Regions from separate parts of the Homo sapiens genome. Here all the other regions are linked to region 3. The links come from fine-mapping of genetic effects on gene expression. A gene starts in region 3. Each other region holds a variant in brackets. All regions are shown on one strand. Distances are between the middles of the regions. Region 1 has its middle 46 kb from the start of RIC3-DT. Region 2 overlaps RIC3 (RIC3 acetylcholine receptor chaperone). Region 3 holds the start of RIC3 (RIC3 acetylcholine receptor chaperone).

Region 1 (6,983 bases), 46 kb before region 3:
GGAGGTTTATCAGTGGGGCAGGCCCCAGTGCATCCTTACTCTGTCAGTCCGTCCCAGACATGACCACGCTATACGCCAGGCACGGTGCTGGAAGCAGGCTACGGGATGGAAACACCAGTGAACAAGGTCATTCTCTGTGTGGTTTACAGTCTAGTGAGGGAGACAGACAATAAACAAATAAAAAGATCAATAACAGGCTAAAGACAGTGCCGGGTGGCAGGGAGAAGCTGGAGGGAAGTCTACTCAGAGAGAGTGGGCAGGGATGAGAGTTTCTTGCCCACCACCCTTAGAGACCATCTTATCCGATGGGCTCACTATGGGGAAACTGGGGCCCGGAGAGGAAGTGATGGCCAGGGGCACACTGGAACCAGCCTGGGTTGGGAGTCTGGGTTCCTGGCCCTCAGCCTGGCCCAGGGCTCTGTGTCCTACATCCTGTGACTTGCGTTCCAGCCAAGGATCCTCCTGGGGCACACAGTGGGTGGAGGAAAGGAAACTCCACTCAGCCCTGACACCTGCTCAGTGCTTCTCTTCCTTTGTTTGCCACTTAATAAGAAACATTACTCCTTAAAATGCCAAGAAACTGGGTTTGGGTTCTTGGCTTCCACCACCAGTCTGCCTGCCCCATAATGCCACCAACTTGGGACACATTGACTAGATCCATGGCTTCTGGGGATTCCAGTGGGATTGTTCCAGACACTTGGAGTGACTGCCCTGTATAGCGTATGCATTAAGAAGGCAGGATTCTCTGCAGACTCAGCACGAGTAGTGTTCTGGGGAAAAAACAATTCACTGTAAAAGCAGGAATGTGCAATGCCCAAAGGGCCGCAGGACGCCAGGAACTGGCAGGACCAGCTCTCCTGTTCCTTTTCTCCGGCCGTTGCCTCTTTCAGCCCGGCTGGTTAGTTCTGATGGGGGAGGAGCTCTGAGCTGAGGCTCACCTCTGGGGCCTCTGTTGGACCTTCCTGGCTCCTGGGGTCCAGAGGTGGGCCGAGGCAGGGAGAGGTGTGCCGAGGCAGGGAGAGGTGTGCCGAGGCAGGGAGAGCTGGGCCGAGGCAGGGAGAGGTGGGCCGAGGCAGGGAGAGGTGTGCCGAGGCAGGGAGAGCTGGGCCGAGGCAGGGAGAGGTGGGCCAAGGCAGGGAGAGCTGGGCCGAGGCAGGTGGGTTTCTCTTAGCTGTGCATCACAGGCCGAGGTGTGGTGGCTCCTGTCTGCTGCCAATGACATGCCCATTAGGCACCCCCTGAGGGAAAGGTTGTTTTGTCTGGGTCCTGTAGACTCCCCTCCCTGCTTCACCTGGGCTTTCAGGTCTATGGGTTCCTGAAATCAGTCAAGGTGATGGTAGGGCCCCTTGCTCCTGGTCCAGGCACATCAGGCCACCATCCATTCCTAGCCTCTCTCACAGTGAAGGAGTGAGGGTGACTTTGCACAAAGTACGGTTGGGGTGGGCACCCCCTTCTCTGAGTTCCCGTGGGCTGCTGCCCCTCAGCCGGGAGCTCTGCTGGCCCAAACCTCTCCTTCACCCTCCCCTGCACCTGCCTTCTTATTTAGGGCCTATCTGGAAGCTAATCCCCGTGCTTATTAGATGACCCCTCATCCTGTCCCTCTGCTTTCATTAGAGACAAGAGAGCTAATTACCAGCCCCTCTGAGGCCCCACTACGGCCATTTTAGAGCTGAGGCAGCCCTTAAAATGATTTAAAAATCCCATTTCCCTGCAATGAAATAGACTACCCTTCCCTCCTCATTAAGGCTAATTACAAAACATTTCCCACCTGAGAGGGGCCTGCTCTTGTCCTCCCACCCACCCCCACCTCCAGCAGTGGCTCCCCAAAGAAGCCTCCCCAGGCTGGGAAGGGAGGCAAGGGAAGCATCAGAGGCTCTTCTCCCTCCAGGAAGACATCCCGGTAAGTTCTGGAAGGCTGAGCCTAAAGCAGCCGGAGGCAGGATGCGTGCAGGTTGTGGGGGTTGGATGGAGAAATGTTGAGAAGGGGAAAGACAAAACCAGGTTTGAATGGTGGGCACCACCCCTTCTAGGGCCGTCATGCTGCAAAACTGCAAAACTTCCCCCACCAAGTCCAAAACGTGAGCATGTCCTACAGGAAGGAGAACCAGGTCAGGCTCTCAGGACTCATTGGAGCTCTTTGTGGTCCTGGAGTTTCCAAGATGGAGCCCCTTGGGCTCATCAGCAGATACACAGAGTGGAAGAGGTGGTGGAAAGCACGCCCAACAAATACGGCGTGGCCTTTCCCTGGAAAACCAGCACTCATTACCTCCAGAAGCAGCTCAGCTCTTCAAAGGGGGCCTCCGCCCAGGTGCCTCAGACTCCAGAAAATGATGCTGACATTATCCTTAATTGTCTTCTTCCCCTCTGCCCCCTGCCTGGGACAAGCAAAGTGGAAAAACCAAATTAAAAACTCAGGCTATCAAAAAAGGAGCACTTTAAAAATTTCAGCATATATATATGTTTGTCATATATATGTTATATATAAAGGTTTGTTTCATTTCAAAAACATAACTTTATTTTGCAGTTTAGATATTTTTATTTTAAATCCCATAGGGGGTTGGATGCTCTCATCTTTTTTCTTTAGCATAGGGCCTCTAACCTAGGCTCTGGACTCCATTTAGCTCTGCTCTCTCTCTATGCAGCATGGGGCTGTGCAACGTAATCTTTGAGGTTCATCCCTCTCCCACATTCTTGGAAACTGTGAGTCCCATTCCATGGGACATTTGGTGTGGACTGTTTCTGCATGCTTTCTTCCCAACCCC[G/A]CCTTTGGTAGGGGGCTGTAGATTGGTGGTGTGCAGTAGATGGACCCCAATGTTTAGCTCACAGCCAAGCTTTGTCAAAGGGGTAATATAGAGCAAAAAAGTGGCATGATCTATTTTGTTGGGGACCCCAAGGCCTTCCCAATGTGATCCCTGGGCCAAGCAGGAATAGACTCTGCCTTCCATCACTGAGTTTGTCTCTGGTGACCCTCAACACCAGCAGTGCTTTGAAGAATGGGACACCATATTCTTCACTCCCCTTCAGACACTCTCCTAGTCTTGTACACCTTCAAGCTTTGCTTTCTGATCTTTGCAGAGAAACATTTAGGCCAGGATAAAGACTTCATATAAAGGAAGGGGCACAGGTTCCAGAGTCCCAAGATAGATGCAGATTCTGGGCTCCTGATCCCATCTGGGTAGGGACCAGATCCCCATTATACTTCTGGTTGTCTTTATTCCCTGTTAGAATGCACACTTCCACCTTTCCCCACCACTGACCAGTAGACCTTTGTCCAGCAAAATAATGCCCTTGGGCCTGAAGAGACCTTAGAGGCAGAATATCAAGGGCCCCTTGCTTTTAGTGGGCAATCTACGTTTTTATATTAGCGGTTACAGGTTTCTACCCTCTAGGAACTTACCCACCCAGTGGGGCCAAAGACAACAACCCATTATAGAAATGTTTCTGCTTATTAAAGCCCTATAACTCCCATTGCTATATTTTGTCTCCCAGTCTCCCTGGGAGTACACAGGTTAAGAGTCCCAGTTTACAGGGAAGGACATAAAATATATTGTAATGTAGTTAGATCATGCAGAGGACAGAAGAGGAATCAGCTCTCCTTCCTCTTGGGACAGGGTGCCTGCTCTGTACCTTAGTGTAGACCACTAATAGAAGCAATACATGGTGAGAGTGGATGCATGGATATTGTGTTGTGAGAATTCTGAAGAGGAGATGGCCCACGTGGCAGAAAATATCTGAGAAGAGGCAAGTACTGAGCTGCTTCTTACAGAAAGACTAGCTAGAAATATGAGGGACGGCCTTACAGGTACAGAGGGAAGCCTGTAATCTTGACTTGTCAAAACAGAAGAAGGGACACTGGGAAGTGGAGTGTGCCTAGAATGGAAGTGGGGGACAGGGAATTGGAAGCTGAGCAGAAGAGTTTAAGCCTTTATGTAGTAGGCAATAGAGAGCTCGCGTTATGAGCCGGGCATAGCACACATGTCCACTGCTGTTTTCTAAGTTGTGAATCTTATGGACACTTGGAAAATGTATTTTCCTGTGGGTACCATAGGTAACCTTACTGGCTCTCACTTAGCAAAGCCCTACCTCTGTAAGGGCACAGTGACCTGCTGTGAAGCAGGAGTATCAAGGAAGAATGCTTTTGGTGGCTCAGGCTGGGGCCCAGGGAGCAAAACGGGCTTATTGGAGCTGGGGCTAGGATTTATCTGCATGGAGATACAGAGAAAGGACACTTCAGGCTGAGACAAAAGCAAATGTAAGACCTAGCAGTGCTAGGGGGGCTCAGGGAGGAGCAGGCAGCCAGATGTGCTGGGAGGTGAGGGGGCTTATTGGAAGTAGTGAAGTGGTCTATGGGTAAAGGGAGTAAAGTTGATGGAGATATTGGATGGTCTGTGTCCTGGGGCACAGGGAATAGAACTAGGGTTAAAGAGCACTGTTTATTGGGGAGGACTTTGAGGCCCGATAGACCAGAAAGGTTCAGCAGGTGGCAGAGTCTAGCAAAATGGTGTGATGTTTTGAAACACACCTCTGCCAAGGGGTAATAATGCTCATTGCAAGTGGAGGTGACCACTCTCTTGGCTAAAAATTGAGCATGATATGGCCTGGGGCAAAACCCTGTGGCTGGCCATGCAGTACTTCCTATCATACTACCATTATTTGGTGTTCTTTTGGGAGTGATTCTTCAAACAGCTGAGTAATATCACGTCAGATGCAGTTTTCCATCACAAGCGTGGATGAGGTTATGAAGGAACTTACCAAGAATCCAGACACTGAAAAGCATCCCTGAGAGCAGTCTAGTGACCTAGGCAGAAAAAAAAGTGATGTTGATTTAATTCATCCATCAACGCATCCGTCCATCCATCCTTCTTGCCATTCTTCCTTCCATCCAGATTTCTGTCTATCCAAGGTATGTCGAGTGTGTAATGTAGTATAAGGCAAGAAAGGTGAAAAGACAAATGAACCAAAGCCCCTGCCCTCAAGAAATCTCACAGAAAGGAGGGGAGTCAGGAGCCAGCCTGTTAAAAAGTCATAACTCAGTGTGATTGGCGTCATGTCAGAGCTCTGAACAGAGGTTTCAGAAAGAAGGAAGAGAAGGTGACTAACTTTGCCTGGGAGAAGGGAAGGTTTCAGAGGGAAGGACACTTGAACTATCAAACGTGGAAGGATGAGTATGCCCGGCAGCAGGTAAAGGCACAGAAGTGGGAGACAGTGGGGCTTAGTTGGAGGGTGACCAAGCACTCAATGCACCTGCAACCCAGAACGCAGAGGCCTTGGAGGAAAGCAGCAAGCCTGCTGGAAGGGGCTCTCGTGCCAGGCCAGGGAGATAGACCTTTACCCTGGAGGCAACCAGGAAATGTCAAAACTTTGTAAGTGGAACAAAGGCACAATAAGGCCTGAACTTTTTGGGAAATCACTCTGCAGTGACATAAAGAGTGAATCATGGCAGGAAGTAGTGGCTTACGCCTGTAATCCCAACACTTTCAGAGTCTATGGTGGGAGGATTGCTTGAGTCCAGGAGTTCAAACCTGAGCAACATAGCAGGAGTCTGTCTCTACAAAAATAATTTTAAAAATTAGCCGGGCATGATGGTGTGCACCTAGCTAGTTGGGAGGCTAAGGTAGGAGGATCACTTGAGCCCAGGAGGTCAAGACTGCAGTGAGCCATGATTACACCACCGCACTCCAGTCTGGCAGTAGACACCAGGAATGGGGACAGGGCAGACAGCAGGGGTGAGGACACCTGCAGCTTCTTCTATTGTACAGATGAGGAATGAGTTTTTCATGACTTGCTCTTCATGAGCCTTTGCCAGACTTTTTTGTTTTTCTCTCCATTCAGTAAGTACTAGAACCCTCTTGGGGATAGAGAAGGCAAGTTCTTCCATCCAGTCATTGCGTCCTAGGCCTGCTTTGAGTTTTATCCACTCTCTGCTCCCAAGGCATCTTCAAGCACAGAGAATAAAATGGCCAAAGAAAAGGTGTTCACACTGGGCAAATAATTTCTGATGAAATGAAGTGAACTGTGGTTACCTCCTCAGCCCCCCACCACCAGGGTATTTGGGGCTCATTGAGAAAGGAATTGAGAATGATGCCAATATCCCAAATGGCTCATATGGGGCATTTTCTGTTAGTGGAAGGTCCCTCTACAATAAAAACAGGTTGAGAAATGAGGTAAACACTTACTTTGGCATAATAATTCCAGGTAATAATTATTGGAGAGAAATTAAAATCAGGTAACCAGGAGGAATATGTATTCCTCTGGTAATAATTAGCTTTGAATTTTGTGAATTTTGTGAATTTCTGTTAGGTAAATCTAGGAGGAAGCAATGCATCCACGTCTGGTTTAGAGGTTGAACTAGAGCCAAAGCATGAGCGCCTTCCTCACTCACAGGAACAAGACAGCATCTACCTGAGACACCCTCTGTAGTGGACATTTAGGGGACTTTGAAGCTCCAGTCCACAGATGATTAGTCCAAAACAAAGAAGTGTACCTGGACCCTATTAATGGTCTAGGGTGTGTAGGTATCCAAATTGTTCTTATCAGACTAAGGACTAATATCCCATGACAGGATGAGAGGTTTCCTATCTTTCTATATGTGAATAAGGAAAGAGGTGGTTCTTTTTGTCACTGCTAGCCATCATGACCATAAAGGAGACCAGTCTTAAGACGAAGATGGCACCAAGGAAGGCGGAATGGAGGAATGGAAAAATCTATGTCCTCAATGGCTTCATTAAACTGCTGGTGGTATACACTTGGGGCCCACCCTACCTCCAGATGACTGCATTGTTTAAGTCCCCTTGAATCTGGGGTTTCTGTTACTTGCAGCTCAGAGCTTCTTTATTAATACACCCTACAAAGGACTCTAAAGGTAAAGTTGTGTATGCCTTGTTGCGGTACGAGGAAACTTTGGCTGTATAAACTCACGCCCTGGTCTTTCCAACTTCCTGTATGGATTTTATGGGTGCCTAGTTGAAGCCTTCATTAGAAAT
Region 2 (6,983 bases), 59 kb after region 3:
GGAGGCTGGGTCTGTGGGTGCAGGCATTATGACTAGGGATGCAGAGCTGGACTGAGGCCTGGTGTTGGGGTAGGCTGAGAGCCTGAGTCTGGGTGACCTTCCCTCTTAAAGCAGATAGTCATGAAAATTCAAAGATAAGCTTTGTTCTAAGTGTGGGAAGACAGGGACATGCCAGCAAATGGACTTCTTTTAAGCATTCAGTGGCTGGGAGCTGACTAGCAAGCAGCTTCTCCAGATCCTATCCTTGACCATGGTGGCTGAGGGTCTTGGGTTAGCTAAGCTCCACTTTACCTAGCATTCCATCCGCAGTAAGTTAAGCCTTGGAATAAAGACTGCATTGGCAAAATTCTTAACATACTACTGTGAGTGCTGGTGAGGGTGTCATAAGATGGACAGTCTTTATATCACTGGTAGGATTGAAAATTTATACCACTCTTCTGGAAAGTAATTTGGCACAGTATAAAAAAGGCTTTTATAATGTCCATTCCCTTTGGTCTAGTTTTCATATTTATAGAAGTCTATCTTAAAGAACTAGGGAAGTGGACATAGATTTATATTAAGAAATCTTAACTTGTATACTACTTATAATAGGGGAAAATTGGAAAGAATCTAAATGCCCTAGAAAAGAGGACTAGTAAATCATGTCAGTTATGTAGCTATATGATGAGATATTTTGCAACCAACTTTCAAATGCCTAATGACATGGAGAGATGCTCATGATATAATGTTGAATTGAAAAACATCAGGATATAACCTTTTATACACAAATATGATCCTTCTTTTTAAAAAAGGGGAATAAGAAAATACATGTTGGCCGGGCGCGGTGGCTCATGCCTGTAATCCCAACAATTTGGAAGACCGAGGTGGGTGGATCACCTGAGGTCAGGAGTTTGAGACCAGCCTGGCCAACATAGTGAAACCCCGTCTCTGCTAAAAATACAAAAAATTAGCTAGGTGTGGTGGCATGCACCTGTAATCCCAGCTACTCAGGAGGCTGAGGCAGGAGAATCACTTGAATCGGGGAGGCAGAGGTTGCAGTGAACCGAGATTGCACCACTGCACTCCAGCCTGGGCAGGCGACAGAGCGAGACTCCGTCTCAAAAAAAAAAAAAGAAAAGAAAAGAAAAGAAAAGAAAATATATGTGTATATACGGTTAAAAAAAGACCAGAAAAAAGCAAATTATTATGAGTGAAGATATTATGGGTGATTTGTGTTTTCTTTTTTAAACTAGCCTGTATTTTTTTCAAATTTTCTACAAATGAGTCTGTATGATTTTTATAGTCAGAAAAAGCAGTAAATGTAGAAATGTCTCCACACACACCCTACATTGCACCAAAAAAGACTTATTTGTCACAGTTGTAGGCAAAAAATGGTTTACGTTAGGGTTGAATTTGCCAATTATCATAATGGGCAAATGGGTTCTGAATCCTCCAGCTTTCTGCACTGTATCGTGATTACGGCCGCTGGTGCCAGTACTGGTGTGTGAGCTCCAGCACGGCCCATCTGCTGCTCAGGCTTGCTTGGCGGACACAGATTTATTTCATTTAGTTTGGTAATTTGGCAACAGTTTCTCTTTTCTCATTATCCTAGCTGGGATTCAGTACCAGTGTTACTCATTTTGTTTGCCAGTTTGTTGTTTTCTTTTGTTCCATTTTGTGAAGATGAAGAAGCCAACAACAGGAATTCTGTCTTCCGAAAATGCAGTGCTTGTCCTTTCGGGATCTTGGGCATGCCTTGCTAAAGTGCTCTCTATTTTTGACACTTGCAAGCCATTTCAATTGTTTGGATAAATAGAAAGCTTCATGGTGTATTTTTCAAAGAGCTTAGCATTCCTTTCCTCTCCCCACTCCACCAAGGAAGATTTGGAAATTGTTCCAAATAGAAATTATAAACATTAGCCTGGAGCTGTGCTGTCTCTGTCTGGTTTTGATGCTTTTTTTGTTTTAACTAAAGGCTCATGTTGTTTGTTTAATCTTCATCAGTACTGCAAAAACACATGGTATAAGACTTAACTCTGCCCCAAGCACCCTACACATAAGAAGGGATTTTCATCTGAATTAGTTTGTATTTCAAAGAGCACTGGGATAGCCAGATTGCTAAGAATTTGCTCAAGTAAAACTTTAGAACTATTGGAATCTTAGAGATGTCTTGAATGGATTTGTTAGGATAGGATGGCTGCTGCCTGAGAATCCTCTTTGAACCTGACACTATTTTTTTTTTTTTTGAGGAGACATTCTTTGTAATACTTTGTGCTACTTTTCTCTCTAGGTTACCCTGAAGAGACTTACCCAATTTATGACCTTTCAGACTGTATCAAGCGTAGGCAAGAAACAATCTTGGTGGATTACCCTGACCCAAAAGAACTTTCTGCTGAAGAAATAGCTGAAAGAATGGGAATGATAGAAGAGGAAGAATCAGATCATTTGGGTTGGGAAAGTCTGCCCACTGACCCCAGAGCCCAGGAAGATAATTCTGTTACCTCGTGTGATCCAAAGCCAGAAACATGTTCCTGCTGTTTTCATGAAGACGAGGATCCTGCTGTCTTGGCAGAGAATGCTGGATTCAGTGCAGATAGCTACCCTGAGCAAGAGGAAACCACCAAAGAAGAGTGGTCCCAAGACTTTAAAGATGAAGGGTTGGGCATCAGCACCGATAAAGCATATACAGGCAGCATGCTGAGGAAGCGTAACCCCCAGGGTTTAGAGTGAAAACAGCCAGTCTGAAGTATCCATTACTCAAGTCCCAAGGTGACCTCTCTCTCCTCAGATTTCCTTCTTGGCCCTGTGCCCTGCACTTTCTTCACTGTGTTCAAGTGTCATAGCTATCAGGCCACTATCATGGATATCATGTATCCTTCCTGGTGCTCACACACCTGTCACCTTGTAAAACACGGACATTAGTGTGAACACAGGACAGCTTCGCTCTTTCTCTTCCTGCCTTTCCTCTATCAGAGAAGTTGATCCATTAAGTAATTATGTTTGGTCTATTGTAATTACAGATGGGACCACTCAGGGGCAAAGGTCTGACTCTTCCTGGTAGGTGTAACAGATAGTTCACCTGTGAACGAACATCAGCTTACAGATGATGAGGACTTAAGGTTGCAAGAATGAAGATTTCAGACTCCAAGATCCCTTATTCTTTGGGCCTTGAGCAGGTTAGTAGTCCCCTGGTGAGAAGAGAACATTTTGTTTGTGGGGCTAATGGGCCCAGAGGAGGGTAAG[A/T]CTCTGCTGTCTAAGCTGAAGCCTCTTCCTCGCAGCGAGGGTCTTCCTAGGAACATTGATGCTGCCTCAGACATCCTCTTTTCTCCAGAGTAGGGAAGACTCCCACTGATCTGAGAATGAGCCCAGAGGCTTGTTTGGGGACTGTTTTACTCTGATACTACCTGGATATCTAGCTTCCTTTACCCCTGTTCTGCTTAACAGAACTGCCAAGCCCAGAAGTACCTTTGCACTCCTGGTTTTCAGTGGACAGAGGAAGCTTTAGATAGAGACTTTAGACCCTGCCCTGCAGAGTCAAGACTTGAGGCCATTGAAGCTGCAGGAAGCCCTGCCCAGGGATGGTCCTGCCATGAGGAGGCTGCAACCCTATAAGAGGGCTCAAGATTGTGAATTCTGCTCCTGCCATGAGGAGCTCAGAAGGCCAGGAAGCCAGCAATAGGGGAGAGAATCTGTGTGCTTATGGACAGTCCTTACCTAAAGCTGTTTCTGAATGTTGCACCCTTTGAGAAATTTCTTCTCAGAACCATAAATTGAAACAAATGAGGACTGATCTTGTATACAAAGTGCCAACTCAAGAGGGAAGTTGGAGTATGTCTGTTGCAGAGAACCAATATAGCAGTGCCCAGGGGTAGAGACCATGTGTTCCATACTCGGATATTTGGGTCTTTTTGAGAGAGCTGGGGAAAGTAGCAGCAACTAGATTAAGACTGGGAGGATTTTGACCAAACTAAAGGCCTTTTCTCCTTACTGCATCTGACGTGTGTCTTCTTGAGACAAGATAGCACCCATGAATTACATCATGAGGTATGTGTGAATTCAGTTTACATGTAAGACCTGAGAGTTCGAAGAGGGCACATTCCCAAAGACATTCCCAGTCATGAAATGTAGAAGACTGGAAAATTAAGACATTATGTAAAGGTAGATATGGCTTTTAGAGTTACATTATGCTTGGCATGAATAAGGTGCCAGGAAAACAGTTTAAAATTATACATCAGCATACAGACTGCTGTTAGAAGGTATGGGATCATATTAAGATAATCTGTCAGCTACTACTAGGCATTTATTGTTAATTGAGTTACAGAAAGTCATTCAAGACTGAGTTTATAGAAAGCATATTGCATCTATCTCTGTGTAGAACATTTGATTCACATTGTGAAGAATGCAGTTTAAAATATACTGAATGCAATCTAGATGTATTGTACACGAAAGGTGAAAAATAACAGGTGCTCTTTACTGTTTAGATAAATTGTTTTCTGTGTTATTTCCCTTCGTTCACTGTGAGGGGTTGATTCATGAGGAGAGCCCTGGGTTCCTGGCTCAGGTTTACTTTTGGCCTTAGGATAGGATTCCCTTATTAGAGATAAATACTGCTGTTCTCTTCTAGCTCATTCATTCATTTAGCAGTCAATTGCTCAGTGCCAGGTGCTAGGAACAGAGGCTCAATCTCTACCCTCAGAAAACTCAGTGTGACGAGAGAGAGCCTGACAGATAAAATGAACTATGACCCTGTAAGAGGGCTCAGGATCGTGAATCCTGCAGGCAGAGAAACATGAGCCATAATCTGTCCCTGCATTTTCTAGCTGTGGAATCTTGGGTCAGCTCCTTAACTGGTCTGAGCTTTGGCTTCAGGGTAGTAAAGGGAGGGGTATTAAAGGTCCTGGTTAAATGAAATCATCAGTGTGTGTAAAACAGCATTGGTTCTAGCTCATACATGATAACCACTCATTAAGTGGTAATTATGTTTTTATTATAAGGGCTATGCTGTAATTCAGACATGGGCCCAAAACTACAGGAAAGATAAATTGTTTTTGCTAAAGTATTGCCAAGAAACTTCACAGTTTCTTGGGAGGTGGGCCTTGAGGCATGCAAAGAACTTCTTCAGGTAGGCAAAGAAGAGAGGACACTCTTGGCAGAAAGAGTTGTTGAAAAAAGCAGTAGGGTGTGAAAATACATGGATGTTCAAGTATTTTGGTGAGGCTGTTATGTAAAGTGTTGTTGGTCTTTGGGGAAAATTGGCTTATGGAAATTCCTGCCAGAAGTACTAAGCCCTTATGGTGGTTCTTCCTGCCCTAGCTCTTGGTTGGTTTATATATAAGGAATATATTTGTGTATTTATATATCAGACATTTGGATGTACCTTTCAGTTATTTAGGATTTAGAAAATTCTTTTTGGATTTTCCAGAATTATTTTATCCTTCGGGGATGACAGTTATATGTGTATATACAACCCAGGATGACAAAATCATGGGTCCGGTTTTTGTTGCCAGGGCTGCTGTCTCTTTTCTTGCGGTCTTCATTTCTCACGAGGGTGCTGGGAACTTGATCAGTCCCCTGGCCTTTTGGCACTGTGGCAGAGTACACAAGTCATACCTTTATGGACAGTTAGCTCACAAAACAACTGCATAATCTGGGATCACTCTTGGTAAATCAGGTGGGTGGTGCAGCCAGGAGATCCCCTTTCCTGGTCACAACAGGAGCACAAAGAAACCATTATCTCCATGACTAGCTCCAGAAGCTGGGCCCAGGGAGTCGTGATGAGGAGTGGAGGTGTATTTGGCCTGTAGAATCAACGGCCTTTGAGAACCATACAATGCACCTTATATGGCTTGGGTGATCAAATAACTTAAGGTCCAAATTCAAACACTTTGGAAAAAGGGAGCTTTAATATAATTATGCCAAGGTGATAGGCATAAACTAAGACTGTCCTGGACGTAGGGTCACCCCTGTCTATAGCCATTTAAGATTTTTGAACCTGATGACTAAACAAACAAAACCCTCTTTCCTTTTTAGAATATCCTGTATGCGCTATTTCCCACCAGAGGCAGAGGCCACAGGAGATAGGCCATGGTTCAGGTAGGAAATGCTCTTGGTCACATCAGAACTCTAGATCTGGGGGAATAAACAAACCCGAATTATTACCACACTCTCAAAGTTCTCTTCAATCTGGACTATTTGTATTCCAAAGAAAAATTTAGTGCTTTAGCTATTCAGCAATATTGAGAAAAAACATGAACACATTTATGACTTTGCCTTGACCATTGACTTTTCTAAAATGTGCTTCCTTTTCCTTTATTTCCCTTTTTTTATACAAAGAAAATAGCCCAAATTTCTCCTCTTAGGTCATTCCTTAACCTCTCAGAGAACCAGTTTCCCCATGAATTGGGAATAATGCTCTATTTACAGGGCTGTTTGGATTAAATAAGATGCTGTTTATAAAGTGTCTGTGCCAGGGCAAAGCATGTGGTAGGTGCTTGGTGACAGCATGATCCCTGTCACCACTCTGTCAAGTCCAGTGTTGCTGAGATGTCACACCTGACACCCTCTAAGGCTACCCTGATTGCCAGGAGTGGCCCAGGGCCCTTCTGCAGTCTCCGGGTGCCTTTAGTTATAACCTCTTGTCTGGGTCAGACCATTAGCTTTCATGTCTGCTTCTAGCTACAACTGTAGCCTCCCTTCCTTTTGCCTTCAAATCTGCCACAGCTGCCCGGCAACAAAAAAAGATTCCTAAGCATCTCGAGGTCCTGTTTAAATGGGTTAGGGTCCAAGCAAGCCCTGAGACATCAAGTGGTTGGGTCTTTTATACCTTTTTCATCTCTACAGCCCTGTTCTCTTCCTAAGGCCAGGCCCACAGGGGATACTGAGGAACCACCAGCCCCTTCAGGCGGCACAGCAGACCCTGAAGAGAACTGCTCTAACTTAAGTACCTTCTGACTTCACCATTTTTCCAGCCTCTGGGTGTGGTTCTGATGAACCTTAAACTTGAA
Region 3 (6,983 bases):
TCAGCTCACTGCGACCTCTGCCTCCTGGGTTCAAGCGATTCTCCTGCCTCAGCCTCCCAAGTAGCTGGGATTACAGGCGCATGTCATCACGCCCAGCTAATTTTTGTATTTTTAGTAGAGGTGGGTTTCAGCATGTTGGCCAGGATGGTCTTGATTTCTTGACCTCGTGATCCGCCCCCCTTGGCCTCCCAAAGTGCTGGGATTACAGACATAAGCCACTGCGCCCGGCCTGTCTTCCTCTAATGAAAACTAGGCTGTTGCCTCTGGGTTCTGTTTCCCTTGCAGATCTCCCAAAGTAAGAGCTATTTTTCTTCCCACAGCTTAAAGCCTGGGAATAGAATAGATGCCCAACTTGTTTCCCCTTGCTGCTTCCAAATTGCTTCTTCCTCTTCTTCCTTTAAAAACCATAGCTCCTGGCCAGGCGCTGTGGCTCATGCCTGTAATCCCAGCACTTTGGGAGGCTGAGGTGGGTGCATAACAAGGATCGAGACCATCCTGGCTAACATAGTGAAACCCCATCTCTACTAAAAATACAACAAAAAAATTAGCCGGGCGTGGTGGCGGGCACCTGTGGTCCCTGCTACTTGGGAGGCTGAGGCAGGAGAATGGCGTGAAGCCAGGAGGCGGAGCTTGTAGTGAGCCGAGATTGCACCACTGCACTCCAGCCTGGGCAACAGAGCAAGACTCCATCTCAAAAATAAATAAATAAATAAATAAATAAATAAAAATTTTTAAACAATTAAAAAAAAACACAGCTCCTTAGAAGAGCATGTCATCTGGCTGCCCATTACTTCTTCTGTTCCTGTCACCTTCCAACCTTGTAGTAACTCCACATTCATTAAAGATTTTAACACTTGGATCACTATTTCCCACCTCATTTCTGTCCTCATACATGGGAACTTCAACATAATGTTGTGACCTAGGTTTCCATTGTGGCTTCTTACAACTTCACATGAGCACTCTCACTAATGCCATCTTCTCCTAGACTTCATTTACTATAGATGGGCTGATGATTTCCTATTGTTTCTAGCCCAAACATCTCTTCTGAGCTCCAGGCCCATATATCCAACTGGATATTTCTACTTGGATATTTCATGGAACTTCAAATTCAGCTAGTCAAAATCTGAACTCTTCATCTTTCTCACAAACCTGATTCTTCTATTCTTAAAATCATGTTATATAGAATTAATGTCTACCATTTACCCAAGCTAGAATTTGGTGGCGGAGGGCGGGGGGGAGTGTGGTCATTCCAGACCCCTCTGTATTTCTTAGAGACCACATCCCATTAGTCACCTCCTCCCTAAGCTGCATCTATAGTCCAGGAGTCCAGAGGTTTTCTGACTAAACCTCCCCAGACAGTAAACCTGGTAGCTAAGAGGGCAAATTCTTGAGTAAGCATGCCTGTGTTCAAATCATAGCATCCAGTTTATACTGTGTAATTGTTGGCAAGTAAATTATGTTTTCTGGGGCTCCATTTTCTTACCTGTGAAATGGGTATATAATAATATTGCTTACCTCTTGAAGTTATTGGGAGGAATAATTATGATATGTAAGATGCCTAAAACATAATTAGTACTCTAACTTTTAGTGATGTTAATAACATCAATGATAATAATGCCCGAGTGAAGCCAGCAGTGGCACCCATCTGGCTGCATGAATCAAGGAAAGAGATTCAGAAGATATCCATTGCTTTAAAAAAATCAAACAATTTTTTTTTAGAGACAGGGTCTCACTCTGTCACCCTGGCTGGAGTGGGTGCCCCTACTGGCTTCATTCAGGCATTATTATCATCTTATATATCATAATTAATTGTGGTTTCACACAATCATAGCTCACTGCAGCCTCAAACTCTTGGGCTCAAGTGATCTTCCCACCTCAGCTTCCTGAGTAGTTGGGACTACAGGTGCACACCACCATGCCTGGTTAATTTTTTACATTTTTTTGGTAGAGATTAGGGCTCTCCCTATGTTGCCCAGGCTGGCCTTGAACTCTTGGCCTCAAGCCATCCTCCAGCCTTGGCCTCCCAAAGCCCTGGGATTATAGGTGTGAGCCACTGTGCCCAGTCTCAACTGCTTTTTAATCAGATTTCCAGCCAATCCTTCATTCAGACCCACTCTGCACCCTTGGCTTTAAAGGAACCCAGTACCTCCAATTCTTAAGAGCATGGGTTCTGAGGGGCAAATTAGTTCACTCCTTACAGGCTTTCAGTCCACAGGCATTTAACTTTTTATGCTCTACACCTGCACTGTCTACTGTGGGCGCCAACGAGCCACACTATCGTGCTGATAAAATTTGAAATATTTTTGCTATCTTGGTTTAAAATATTATTAAAATAAATTTTACTTATTTTTACTTTTTAAATGTGGCTACTGGAAAAATTTAAATTACATATGTGGCTGGTATTATGTGTCTATTGGACAGTGTTGTGTGCGTCTTACAAAATTGACATTTCTCATCTGCTGTCATGTTTTCTATCATTGCATTTAGTCTTGTAGTTTATATACTTTATTTCTTTATTTTCCTTTTTGGGCACTGTCCCAGGAAAGCAAAGATAAATGCATATGTTACATCTGTCATGTTTAACTGGAAGTTCTACCTAAGCTTTTCACAATGTAGCTCCTGCTTATATTTGTGCACTTCGTGTCCTGTCACTACTCTATGGCCCTGCCAAAATGAATTACCAATAGCTTTCTGAACACACCAGGAAGCTTCCAGATTTGCCTTTATTTTTTTGGCCTCCTTTTTCCGGAATACCTTTCTAACCCCTCCCACCTGTCTGCCTATAAGTTACTCATTTTTCAACAGCTAACTCAATTTCACCTTCTCAAAGGGGCTTTTCTTGACTTTTCCTCGTACCAGTTGAGAAGACTGCTCGGGGATCCAGAATATTTCCTGCATTTTTTTTGTTTGGATAATTATCTGTCCTACAAAGGGAATCCATTTTATTCATCAGACCCTGTAGTGCCAAGTTGAGGGTCTAATACATAGTAAAAACTAAAATAATGTTAAATGAACGAATGAAGAGAGTAACAAAGAACGGTGGGATTGTAGAGAAAGGAGAGGCTGACTGAAAACGTTTCGAGAGAGCAGTGTTTTTAAGCTGTTCTTCAGAGAAGTTTTTGACAACTGGAGATGGTGTCAGGAATTTTCCAGGCAGTGGGAACAGGACAAGCAAAGCTTCCCTGAAGACAAGCAATATGCTAAAGAAATAGCAAATCATCCAGTTTGGAAGGAGCATTGGTAAGACCAGATCATGCAGGGCGTTGAGGTTATAGAAAGGAGTTTAACTATTGTTCTGAAGATAATGGAGAGTTAAAAGGTTTAAGCTGGAGAGAAAGAGAATTAGTCTTGTGTTTTAGCATTATCACCTGTGGCTGCAGACGGATAATGAATGCGAGGGGCATGAGTGGAAGCTGGAAGACAGCGAGATCATGGAGATGAGGAGAAACTGGATGTTGTGATCTACGGGTGGGTGGGGGGCAGTGGTGGTAAGTGGGGATAGAGATCCGGGCACGACCGCCGGATGTGTAGGCGGTAGAATGCACAGGACTCAGTAAAAGATGAACATGGGGAGTGAGGGAGGAGTTTTTAGTTAGTATGAACGGGAAGGCGAGGGTACCATTTACAGCGACGGGTAACCACGCGGGAGGAGCAGGTCAACTCCCGACAGTGGAGGTGAAGATGCGTGCGCCTCGCGCACCTTGTCCCTCGCGCGACGCCGTCCGCGCCGCCCGCGGTTCGGTCGGGAGCGGCAGCCCGTGCTCCGGTTCCGGTTCCGGTTCCGGCTGGCGTCTGCACCTGCGACCACCGTGAGCAGTCATGGCGTACTCCACAGTGCAGAGAGTCGCTCTGGCTTCTGGGCTTGTCCTGGCTCTGTCGCTGCTGCTGCCCAAGGCCTTCCTGTCCCGCGGGAAGCGGCAGGAGCCGCCGCCGACACCTGAAGGTAAGAGCAGGCCAGCTCCCTCTGAGCTTCCCGGCGCCGAAGAGTACGGAGAACGCTGCTTGAGGGAGGGGTGACTCTGAGAGTCTGCAGCCTTCACCGAAATATCCACCAAACTGACTGGAGAGGGCGGGCGAGACGGCGTTGAAGGGCCAATGCCCACGGTTCCGTTGTTATCAGCGGGTGGCGGCCCAGATGGTTCTGCTGCTGGAAGGGTCAGGAACGTATGCATGCAGGTCTGTGCATCCTCTAGGTGGCCTTGCGTACTCCCGTTTAGGCGCAGTCCCTTCTCTCTTACCCCGCTGGCTTAACTCATCTCGTCACCATTTGTTCACGTGCTTTGAGTCAAGGGTTCCCAGTTGGGTTTCCCTCTTTAGGTTTTCCGTGTACTTTCTGACGCGCCGCTTGGTACGAAATCAAGGCAAATGGAATTGGTACAGCAAACCTTAAGTCGTTATGTTTTTTCAACTTGGTGCTGGGCGCTCACTGCTTCAGGCTCTTCTTGTGCCTTTAAAAATATATCTTGAAGATTTTAATAACCCCAGTTTCAGTTACTGAGGTGGTTATGAACAAATTATTACGTTCCCCTTATTGAAACAGTATTTATCTGTTAATTCTTCGTTGTTGGCATGATGTATGTGGTGTTTAAAAATTCATCCTCTTAGCTGCACTGGGGCCTTTTACAGAATGAGTGTAAAGGCACGGTGCTGAAGGCTGGGAGAAGGAACCAGAACAGTTTTCTATAGGTCATGAAGTTCTACTGGTAACTTTCTCCTGTAAATTATCCTTGTAATATCTTTGAGACATGATTTTACGGTGTCTGAACACTTCCAGTAATGTTTAAACTGTTGATTGCTGGACAGCTCCTTTTGAACTGTAATCCACTTCCGTCTGCTTTATGCACATTGACTGTAGTTCCATTCTCTTGAGCATCATACACACTATAAATGCAAAGCACCAAGCTTTAGGGGTGGAGGGCAGGTTGAACACATAATTCTGTTTACAGAATTTGCCTGATAATCTTTATGCTTGTAAGACTATCCACTTGGGACGGACTTCTAAAACATCTTTGCGTATTTGTTCTTTTTTTTTCCTTTCTGTCTTATTGCAATAATCCCAAAGATTTTTACCTGCTTTGTCTAATGATATTGTCTACTTTGAAGAAGAGTCAATTCATGATGATCCTGAACAGTGAAGATTCTTCGAAAACTTTTTTTTTTTTTTTTTTACTTTCCATTATGGTGAATTATCTTGAACAAGTACTATTGACTGTGAGTGGGAGACACTCTTCTGAACGTTGTAGAAAATGTAGAGTGGAGATTAGACATGGGTTGTTCCCTTGAGAACTCAAGTGTTGGTATTCAGTGTTCTCATGTTAGGATCTTTGTACCTTCAGTTCTCTTTATTCCTGAAGTGCTGTGCTTTTCCCTCAGTGCCCTTCTCATCATTCAAATTTCTGCTCAAATGAAACCTCCTCAGAGAGACTTCCCCTGATGACACTAACTAAAATAACTCTTTTCTCCCATCATTCTCTATTTTATCATGTTTTATATTCTTCATGATAGGCATCACTATATGATATGGAATATTCTTAAGTGTTTACTTGTTTGTTTTTTTGTCTTCACCTTCTAGAATGTAAGTTTGCAAGGGTAGGGACTTTGTCTTGTTTACCACTGTTTCTTCAGTACCTGGCATATAATGGGCAGTCAATAAATACTTTAAGATTATTAAGCTACCAATACTGTAAATTCTGTTTTTGACAAGGAGAAGCTACTGAAGTAGTATAACCTAGGAAAAAACTTACCTTGAATGGTACATTCCAGTAACTGAAACTTGCAGCAAAAAATCTTAACCATTTTGGGGTTACATACACCATTGAGAATCTTATAAAAGCTATGTATTTTCTTTCTTTCTCTCTCCTTCCTCCCTCTGTCCCTCCCTCCCTCCTTTCCTCTCTTCCTGGCCCCCTTTCCCTTTCTCTTTCCCTTTCCCTGGGTCTCACTCTGTCACCCAGGCTGGAGTGCAGAGTCATGATCACAGCTCACTGCAGCCTCTACTTCTAGGGCTCAACTGATCCTCCCACCTCAGCCTCCCAAGTAACTGGGACTACAGGCACATGCCACCATGCCTGGCTAATTAAAAAAAATTTTTTTTGTTTTTGGTTGAGATGGGGGTCTCATTGTATTGTCCAGGCTGGTGTCGAACTCGTGGGTTCAAGTGATCCTTCTGCCTCAGCCTTCCAAAGTGCTGGGATTACAGGCTTGAGCAACTGCACTCAGCCTAAAACTGTATGTTCTCTCTAGAAAAAGGTACATACTCTTATTGTACTCAGAATTTCAGTATCAATTCAGAGAATTCTCAGAACCCAGAAATCCCTGCTTTGAAGAAAGGAATAACCCTGAGTATTTGAAAATTCTTAAAAATACATGTTGTTATGTCTTCCATTTTTGCCCATTGATGTGCATGAAACAAGCACAGTTCCCTTTCCACATGAAAGCCTTTAAGATAGTCTTTTAACAAATATTTATGATGTACCATATCACATACTGTGCACATAGTGTATAGACACTATGTATTCCAAGAAAAAATGAGCGAACTCCATGCTTTGAGGCGGCCACAGTTTAGTAAAGGAAAGTAGACATGTCAACAGATAAATGCAAAACAGACATGTTAGCAGATAAATGCAAGAGTGTCAGTCACAGTTACTCAAGTCTGCGCAGGGAACAATGGAGACATGTATGCAATGGTCAGTGTTATTGGGACTTAAGAAGGGTTTCATAAACCAGGTGTGACAGCTCATGCCTGTAATCCCAGCATTTTGAAAGGCTGTGGTGGAAGGATTGCTTGAGCCTGGGAGTTCGAGACCAGCTTGGGCCACATAACAAGACCCCCATCTCTACAAAATAAGTTTGTTTTTTTTCAATTAGCTGGGCATGGTGGTGTGCACCTGTAGCCCCAGCTACTCTGTAGGCTGAGGTGGGAGGATCGTTTGAAGTTTGGAGGTCAAGGCTACAGTGAGGTGTGATTGTGTAACTGCACTGCA

What was found. PIP is the estimated chance that this variant, and not a neighbour inherited with it, causes the effect. A credible set is the group of variants that fine-mapping cannot tell apart.
Region 1: its variant is the best candidate, but not a certain one, in a credible set for the expression of RIC3 in whole blood (TOPMed, PIP 0.76).
Region 2: its variant is the best candidate, but not a certain one, in a credible set for the expression of RIC3 in testis (GTEx, PIP 0.65).

The regions. Positions count from the first base shown.
Region 1 is chr11:8,212,008-8,218,990 of GRCh38, reverse strand. No RefSeq gene overlaps it. Among named protein-coding and RNA genes, the nearest start is that of RIC3-DT, 46 kb to the right of the region's middle. The variant G/A (reference allele first, on the strand shown) is at 2,763.
Region 2 is chr11:8,106,424-8,113,406 of GRCh38, reverse strand. It overlaps RIC3 (RIC3 acetylcholine receptor chaperone), which reads left to right. Exons shown (of 6, transcript NM_001206671.4): 6 at 2,270-6,983. The coding sequence ends at 2,709. Among named protein-coding and RNA genes, the nearest start is that of TUB, 29 kb to the right of the region's middle. The variant A/T (reference allele first, on the strand shown) is at 3,223.
Region 3 is chr11:8,165,826-8,172,808 of GRCh38, reverse strand. RIC3 (RIC3 acetylcholine receptor chaperone) reads left to right here and starts at 3,784. Exons shown (of 6, transcript NM_001206671.4): 1 at 3,784-3,943. The coding sequence starts at 3,820. RIC3-DT (RIC3 divergent transcript) reads right to left here and starts at 3,739. Exons shown (of 5, transcript NR_187234.1): 1 at 3,620-3,739; 2 at 2,821-2,924.